Linked DNA regions of Homo sapiens: region 2 is linked to region 1. A link means that fine-mapping ties the variant in region 1 to the expression of a gene that starts in the linked region. Tissue or cell type: whole blood. Region 1 holds a variant in brackets; the other region holds the start of a gene. All regions are shown on one strand. Distances are between the middles of the regions.

The links. PIP is the estimated chance that this variant, and not a neighbour inherited with it, causes the effect.
Region 2: it holds the start of PXK, and the variant in region 1 is fine-mapped to the expression of PXK in whole blood (INTERVAL, PIP 0.96).

Annotation. Positions count from the first base shown.
Region 1 is chr3:58,413,980-58,418,139 of GRCh38, forward strand. The region is part of intron 17 of PXK (PX domain containing serine/threonine kinase like); the gene reads left to right. Among named protein-coding and RNA genes, the nearest start is that of PDHB, 18 kb to the right of the region's middle. The variant G/A (reference allele first, on the strand shown) is at 1,774.
Region 2 is chr3:58,331,091-58,335,250 of GRCh38, forward strand. It overlaps PXK (PX domain containing serine/threonine kinase like), which reads left to right and starts at 1,802. Exons shown (of 18, transcript NM_017771.5): 1 at 1,802-2,000. The coding sequence starts at 1,899. RefSeq lists silencers at 1,576-2,105, 2,352-2,646.

The sequences.
Region 1 (4,160 bases):
ACTGGTGCCTTACTGCTGAATGTTCTAGGGCCTGTTTTGGGTAGCAAAGTACCTGGTCCATGGGAGGATATTCTTGTCCTTATCTTTGTCAGCAGATTTCCCAAGAAAGCCCCCAAATGTTGATCAAGACAGAAAATAGGCCTTTTTTGTCTTTTATGGAGATACACTGTTTAGGCTGATCAGAAATGTCTGGTGATCTACTGCCCGGACTATATTAAGCCATTTTCTAGAAGATAGGATATTAATTTAACACCACTTGGGCATATTAAGAAAATTGGAGAAAATTAGTAGTGAGAATCCAGAAATCCTCCTTTAACAAGCAAGGCACTTGAGGCGTCTGTTTAAGGGTTCACAGCCCCTGTCTGTGTGGTTAGATCTGCCCCTGCTCACTTGACTGCCGGTTCTTATCTCTAAATGCCTTTGGGAATTTACAATTTATTTGGACTTTTGGGGGGAATTCTCTAATTTATCTGTGTTTAAATGGGTGCTGTCTCATACAGTAGTAAGTTTGCGTGAGATAAGGTAACTTTTAGAATGAGAGAAAAAAAGAGGAATCTTGTATAATTAGAGTCAATGTTGGGAAAACTTGGAGGTGAGTGGGAGGGGCATTCCTGTGAATTTGATAGCACCCAGCCTGAAGGGGAGTCTTGAGGATTTAGAAGGAAAGCACATGTGAGGCCCCAGCACAATGCCTGGCAGAGTGAGAGTGCCTGGCAGAGATGAGAGGTTCCCAGCAAATATTGGCTCCTCCTTTCTTTTATCTCCTTAATGTTTTGTTGATGAAATTGACTCAGCCTGCAATCTGACCTCTGCTGGGCATTTCCTGTAATGCATCTCATGAAAATGGTAACTAATATTTAGCATTTGCCTGGCAACCTAGCATTTCAGGCCCTAAGCATTTCAACCCAAGGGAGTTTATTCATTTAAGAATAAACATTCAAGGTGCATTTACTGAGAACCTATGGTTTGCTAAGGACTGTGCTTGGCCCTGGGTTACAGAAATGGCTAGACAAGGCCCTAGCTCTCATGGAGTCACATTTCCAGTGCCTCTCAGAAGCTCCAAAATGATAGACACTGTTTAGGAAAAACTCACACTCAAAAGTATTTTTCCCTATTCTGTCACTCAACACAATAATAATCAACACAGACAGACTTCTGTGACCAAATGTCAGGGTGTGGGGGAGTGGTTCTGTCCACCACCAAGTAAGCAATCAGTTTTGCTATGGACACCAGCTGGGTGTCCTCCAATTCAATTCTGACACTATCTACCTGGAGATAGCGTCAGACCCCACAGGTTGGGGCTCAGTCCCCAAAACTACCTGCTCTTTCTGACACCATTTGCAAGGATGGGACTCCAGAACTTTTGACCGGCCAGCTTCAAGTAGGAGTTCCCACCGTTAATTTGCTGGAGCAGCTCACAGAATTCAGGGAAACATGTTTACTGGTTTATTATAAAGGATGTTACAAAGGATACAGATGAAAAGATGCATAGGGCAAGGTGTGGGGGAAGGAGCTTCCATGCCTTCCCTGGGCACATCACCCTTCAGGAACCTCCGCATGTTCAGCTATCAGGAAGCTCTCCAAACCCTGCCCTCTTGGGCCTTTTATGGAGACGTCATTGGATAGGCATGATTGACAACCATATAGAAATGTTGTTATAGAACCCAATTTTGGTCTGCTCACCCAGTGCAATAAAATCAGATACCCACACCAAGGCTGTTGCAGTGACAGAAAGGAAGGCATTTATTGCAGAGTGCTGTGCAAGGAGGACCA[G/A]GCAGCAAAATGCTCAAAAATCTGACCTTCCAGATGGCTTACAGGCAAGGATTTTTAACGGTGGGGTAAATTTCAGGAAAACAGAAGCTACAGGCAAAATTATAAATCAGTACACCGAGGTTGCACATTGGTTTAAGCTTAAAAGGGCGGGACATCTTGGGGGTAGGGGGTGCTCACAGGTAGATTCAGAGATCTGACTTGCAGTTGATCTTAGTTGCAGAAGCTCTAAGAATTTTGGGGTCAGTAGAAAAATGCTAACTTGCTAGGGGGAGTGACTTTCTCCAAGCCTCTCAAGAAGAAACTTAGAACAAAGGACGGTGGGATTGATAATAGGTACAGTTTAGTCTTCTTTTCCTCCTAATCTGGGATCTTTGTGGTGAGGGTCTTCAGTGGAGGCCTGAGCCTTTGAAAGACAACTCAGGGACATATGTTAAGATCTTATCTTTAGTTTCTATAGGGCAAGGGAACTTCTCTGGAGCTTTAACTTCCTTGGCTATTGTTCTTAAGCCACTTATTACCTTCTTGTTTACCAAGTTACTTAATTACTTCTAGGGCTAGCTGGATGCCTGGAATTTTTCTTAAAGGAACATTTGGATTTTCCCTTATTTCCATGCCTTGAGGTTTACAGGTCCCTAAAAGTTGGGGGCGGTCCCAGTTTCTATCTCATTGTGATTGGACAAAAAGGGTATGATCTAACCCCAGCAAGGCCTGTTTGTTCAGATTCTGCTTGGCCTCTCTGTACAGCTTTCCTTCTTCTAGGGTATGGGGCGTGTGTAGGAGATGCTTGGCAAATCTTTGATTTACATAGGCTTGCTCTGCCTTCAAGGCCTCTGCAGAGTGAGAGCAGGAGGACTCTGAGCCTAGGGATTACACCATTTTTGTTTTTGAGACAGAGTCTGGGTCTGTCACCCAGGCTGGAATACAGTCGTGAGATCTCGGCTCACTGCAACTTCCGCCTCCTGGGTTCAAGCGATTTTTATGCCTCAGCCTCCCAAGTAGCTGGGATTATAGGCACTCACCACCACGCTTGGCTAATATTTTTGTATTTTTGATAGAGATGGGGTTTCACTACGTTGGCCAGGCTGGTCTTGAACTCCTGACCTCAAAGTGATCCACCCGCCTCGGCCCCCAAAGTGCTGGGATTACAGGCTTGAGCCACTGTGCCCGGCCAGGATTGCAACTTTTGGCTGGCCAGCCCATGCTTAGGCTGTTCTTCCTTGCAGAACTGGAGGTCGGTCTTCTCCTGGGCTCAAGTGATCCTCCTGCCTCAGCCTTCTGAGAGGCTGGGACTATAGGCGTGCACCACCACATCCAGCTAATTTTTAAATTTTTTGTAGAGACAGGGGTCTCATCATGTTGCCCAGGTTGGTATCAAACTCCTGGGCACAAGCACTCCTCTCACCTCAGCCTCCAAATTGCTGGGATTATAGATGGGAGCCACAGCACCTGGCCTCACAGTTCTTTCTAATCAAGCACACTCTAAATCCTAAATCCACTGTGAACTCTGGCCTTTGGCAGTTTGCTCAGCAATAGATCAGCAGCAATAGATGAGCTTAGGTAAGTTGAATTCAGCAGCAGTGCCTTTCTTTCCGAAAGCATCGGTTGTAAGCACATTTATGGCAGCTAAAGGTGGTTTTAATCTCAGTTTCTAAGTGAAGGGGTCTTACCCTTATGAGCCCTTTCTAGCAACTATGTAAGGGTTGGGGCCCCTCCCTTTTCTTACTGTAGCTTCTTCTCTGGGGGCTCCTTCTTGAGGTCCTTACCAAGCTGATGGGAGAAATATCCTTTCTTTAAGTCTGCTGGCAGTTCCATTGGGTGGGGTGGGATTCTCTAATACTCTTTTGCTGAGACCCCTGTTTTTTCAGTAAGAACATTCCTAGCACTGTCTTTTCTGCAAAAGGTTGTTTTCTGCCTCAGGAAGGTCACTTTTTCCAGGACTTTAAAATTCTTTATCCTGGTTTATTTCATGGTAGTATCACCAACTAGTATTTATACTCTATTCATAGAACTGATTGGTTTTAAAGGTCCCAATTTACACACACACAAATATTCCCTCCCACCCTCCTTTGGGATTAGACAGGCCTGTTGCCTTGCTATCTGTTTTTTTGAGACAGGGTCTCTCTCTGTCACCTTGGCTGGAATGCAGTGGTGCAATCACGGCTCACTGCAGCCTTAACCTCCCACCTCAGCCTCCTGAGTGGGACTACAGGTGTGCACCACCACCCTTGGCTAATTTTTATATTTTTTTGTAGAGACGGGTTTTGCCATGTTGCCCAGTCTAGTCTTGAGCTCTGGGGCTCAAGTGATCTGCCCGCCTTAGCCTCCCATAACAGTGGGATTACAGGCATGAGCCACCCACACCCAGCCCTTTTTTTAAAAAATGGGTT
Region 2 (4,160 bases), 83 kb before region 1:
TTAAGAGTTAGGAACCTTCCATTCTGTCAACTGTAGGGGAAGGAGGAAACTAATATTGACTTTGTTTTGTTTTTTTTTTGTTTTTCCGGAGACGGTCTTGCTCTGTTACCCAGGCTGGAGTGAAGTGGCATGATCATGGCTCACTGCGGCTTCAACCTCCTGTGCTCAAAAAACTCTCCCACCTCAGCCTCCTGAGTAGTTGGGACCACAGGTGTGAGCCATCATGCCCAGGTATTTTTAAAATTTTTTTGTAGAGACGGGGTCTCACCATATTGCCCAGGCTAAACTCCTGGACTCAAGCCATCCACTCTCCTCAGCCTCCCAAAGTGCTGGAATTACAAAGGTGAGCCATCATGCCTGACCACGGTTTGAGGTGTTTTTGTTTGTCTGTTTTTTTGTTTGTTTTTTGAGACAGAGTCTCACTCTGTCACCCAGGCTGGAGTGTAGTGGTATGATCTTGGCTCACTGCAACCTCCCCCTCCCGGGTTCAAGCAATTCTCCTGCCTCAGCCTCCAGAGTAGCTGGGTCTACAGGCACGTGCCACCATGCCCAGCTAATTTTTATATTTTTAGTAGAGGGGGTTTTGCCATGTTGGCCAGGCTGGTCTCAAATTCCTGACCTCAGGTGATCCACCCACCTTGGCTTCCCAAAGTGCTGGGATTACAAGCGTGAGCGATCATGCCTGACCACCGTTTGAGTTTTTACTATGTGCCAAGCCCCTTCCCAGTCTACTGCATTCCTTGTATTAACCTTTTCATACAAATAATATTATCTCCACTTTGCAAATTGGGGAGTTGGGACTCAGAGAGGTTGGGTAACTTATTGAAGATCACACAGCTGGTAAATGCCAGAGCCATGGAGATGATGGTCCTCCAATTCTAAATTTAACTCTTCACTATCCTGGAATGCTGCCCTAGGAGAGGGCAGTGTGGGTGAAATTTCTAGGTGTATATGGAGATGGGGGGGATGAGGTGGTGCCAGGATTATGGCTTTGGGTTCAGGCAGACTGTGGGCAGATTTAGGGCTGAGAAGTTGATCCCAAGGTTCTCTGGCTTGGCTCTTGGTTTGAAGTTCTTCTAGTCCATATGGTGGGATCAAAAACTCCCAAGTCTAAGGGATGTGGTTGAGCCCGCAGTGGGGGCCAAGAGTAGAGGCTAGGGGTCTCTGGACCATTTTATAGGGTCTCCAGTTCTTAGAGCTTGGGTCTGAGGGTTCTGGGGCCCAAGACCTCCAATTATGGGGTCCAGCTCTTAGGTGTTCAGGCCTGAGGAGCCACGTTCAAGAGTCCCTGTGAAGTTTCAATAGGAAGGGCTTGTTTCAGAAAGTCTCTGGGTTTGCAGGGCTCAGACTGGGGGTCCCATCCTAAAGGCCCTTTTTCTGAGTTTTAGGGTCCTTGGGCCTGGGGGATGAGAGAGATCCAGTTCTGAGGGTTTCAAGAGGTACGGTCCCCGAAAAGCCCAGTTCTGAGAGGCCTGGTTTGGAAATCTCGCCCTGAAGATTCCTGGATCCCAGGGCTCAGGACCAGGCGTCTCTGGATCTGAGGATCCTGGTAGTGATGGCTTAGGGTGGTGTTCCCTGGTCCGAAGCCCGGAGCTAAGGGCACCGGGTCTGCGGTGCGGCTGCGAGGAGCAGGGAAGCGCAGGCCCATGGCAGCCGCGAGGCGGAGGAGCGGGCCAGCGGGCGGCAGTGCTGGCGGCCCCCACACGTTCTGCGCTGGGTCGGCGCTAGGACTCCGGGGCGGCGGCCGTGGGAAGGGCGGCGCTAGGACCCCGCGGGCCCGGCGGCGCGTGGGGCGGCGCGTGTTGACAGCGGCGGCGGTGGAACCGGGCGGGCGGCGGGAGTCGGCGCCTCGGGTTCCTACCTCGCGTCCCTAGGCGGCGGCGGCCGGGCGTCCCGGGATGGCCTTCATGGAGAAGCCGCCAGCCGGCAAGGTGCTGCTGGACGACACGGTGCCGCTGACAGCAGCCATCGAGGCGAGCCAGAGCCTGCAGTCCCACACGGTGCGCGGCCCAGCGGGCGGGCGGGCGGCGTGGGGCGGCCCCGGGCCGCGAGGGGGCTGCGGGCTGCCTGGCGCGGGCCGGGCAGGGTCGTCGGACGGAGACCGGGCCACAGGGTGGGCGGCCCTGGCCGAGAAGGCTGTGGCGCGCCGCTGGGTCTGGGTCAGGGCCCCTGGGGCCCAGGCGAACGCTGAGGCCCGGAGGGGCCAAGGATGGGGACCGCAGCTCCCGGCGCCGCGGGGTGGAAGGAGCTCGGCGGCGACCAGGAAAGCGACTCCGAGTTGGGGGGCGGGGGCGGGGGCTGCGGGATTCCCGGGCTCACCTTGGACTAGGGGAGCAGGAACGAGACCGCTCAGGACCATCCACTTCTGCCCGCCGCCAGCCTTTTCCTTTTTGAGGCCGTGTAATTTCCTCCTTGCAGCTGAGGGTCTGGGTGATGGGGATGAGGGTGTGCCGGGCCAAATGAAGTGTGACTCCAGAGCCTACTTGTTGGGACAGCAGAGTGTAAGTGGCTGGGGTCTGCAGCCCCGTTTCCAGGTCAGCCGCTTGGCCCTGGTCCCGGGAAGTGGTGGGGGCGGCAGTCGGGGCGCTGTTAAGCAGGTGTATGAATGTGCTTCTCTAACTTGCTCTTTAGTGGGCAGTGGTAGCATTCATTTGAGTTTAAAATCCACTCGAGTAGCATAAAGGAGTAATAGGTCCTCATAGTAAACATTGGCAGGGTTCATTTCTGCTACATATACGGTCTTTTATGGGGCTTTAAAACCGTGGTTGTTTTCATTTGCTTGTACCTTTTTTTTTTTTTGAAAGGCCCACTATGCATTATAATTTCCAAGCAATAAATCTAGGAACCAGCAAGAAACCTGGAGCTATCAGCTAGTGGGACTTTTTTGGAAAAGTAATGAGTGAGGAGAGAGATTCCTTCAATTGTGATGTTTTGTCAGTCCACCGAATCAGATTCAGACTCAGAGGCTTGTTTGTTTACCATTGCAGTGTGTTTGGGGGGTCATCATCTGGAGGCTAAAGCTCACAATAGCCTTCTGTTTCTCTTTTCGTTCAAGCTCTTCTGATGACTTCAAAGAGACCTTTTATTCTGTTGTATTAAAGTGAGACTTTTTTGAACCTCAGTTTCCTCTTCTGACAGCCGTGCTTTGTAGGGCTTGAATTGTTCAAAGCATTCACTTCCAGTTAAGAAAATTATTATCTTTTTAAAAAGGGCTATTTATTTCACGCTGTGTGTCTTTAATCCTATTCTGTAGACATGTGAGAAGGCACATACAGGACAGAATTTGTTAAACTTGCTATCATTTGTGCCTAAAGGGAGTATGGCATAAGGGTTGAAATTTAGGATAGGGAGTCAAGAGTAATTCAGCTATTAAATTTGATTTTTGACTTGACTATTGGCAAGTAAGTCTTATAACCTTTCAGGGAATAGTGTCGAGTCCTTTAGGTTTATTTTGTATTGAAAATAAAGAGATAGATGTTTCTAAATACTCACAAATTACTTTCCCTAGGAAGCATTCATGATTTCTACAGCCCCAGCCCATGTGCCTACCCACACCTTAATCTTGATTAGTTTGTCCTGTAATTACTTCTTTACTTTTTGTCTCCACCAGGCTACAAGAGGAGGGGCACTTCTTCCTCACTTTTGAGTCTCATTCCCTGGTTTTTGATAGGATTTCAAATGTGTTTATCAAATGACTAAATAATCCAACTTCAACCTTACTATGCCTCTTTTTCTGTTTATGTAAAATGGTAATTGTAAACATTGAAAAAATAACTTAGAGATCAGTGCTTTAGCTAGGTGGCGAAAGATGTAATAGGATTCTGTTTTTATTGTAAGGGTGTGTGTGTGTGTGTGTGTGTGTGTGTGTCTGTGTGTGTGTGTGTGTGTGTGTGTGTAGAGACAGCGTCTCACCATGTTGTCCAGGCTGGTGTGTGTGTGTGTGTGTGTGTGTGTGTGTGTGTGTGTGTGGAGACAGCGTCTCACCATGTTGTCCAGGCTGGTCTGGAACGCCTGGGCTCAGGCCGTTCTCCTGCCTCAGCCCCACAAAGTGCTGGTATACAGATGTGAGCCACCACACCTGGCCCTGCAGATCTTTTCTTTAAAAAATAAAATAATTTAGGGTAGAAAATGGCAGTTCTTGTAGGGATGACTGACCACAA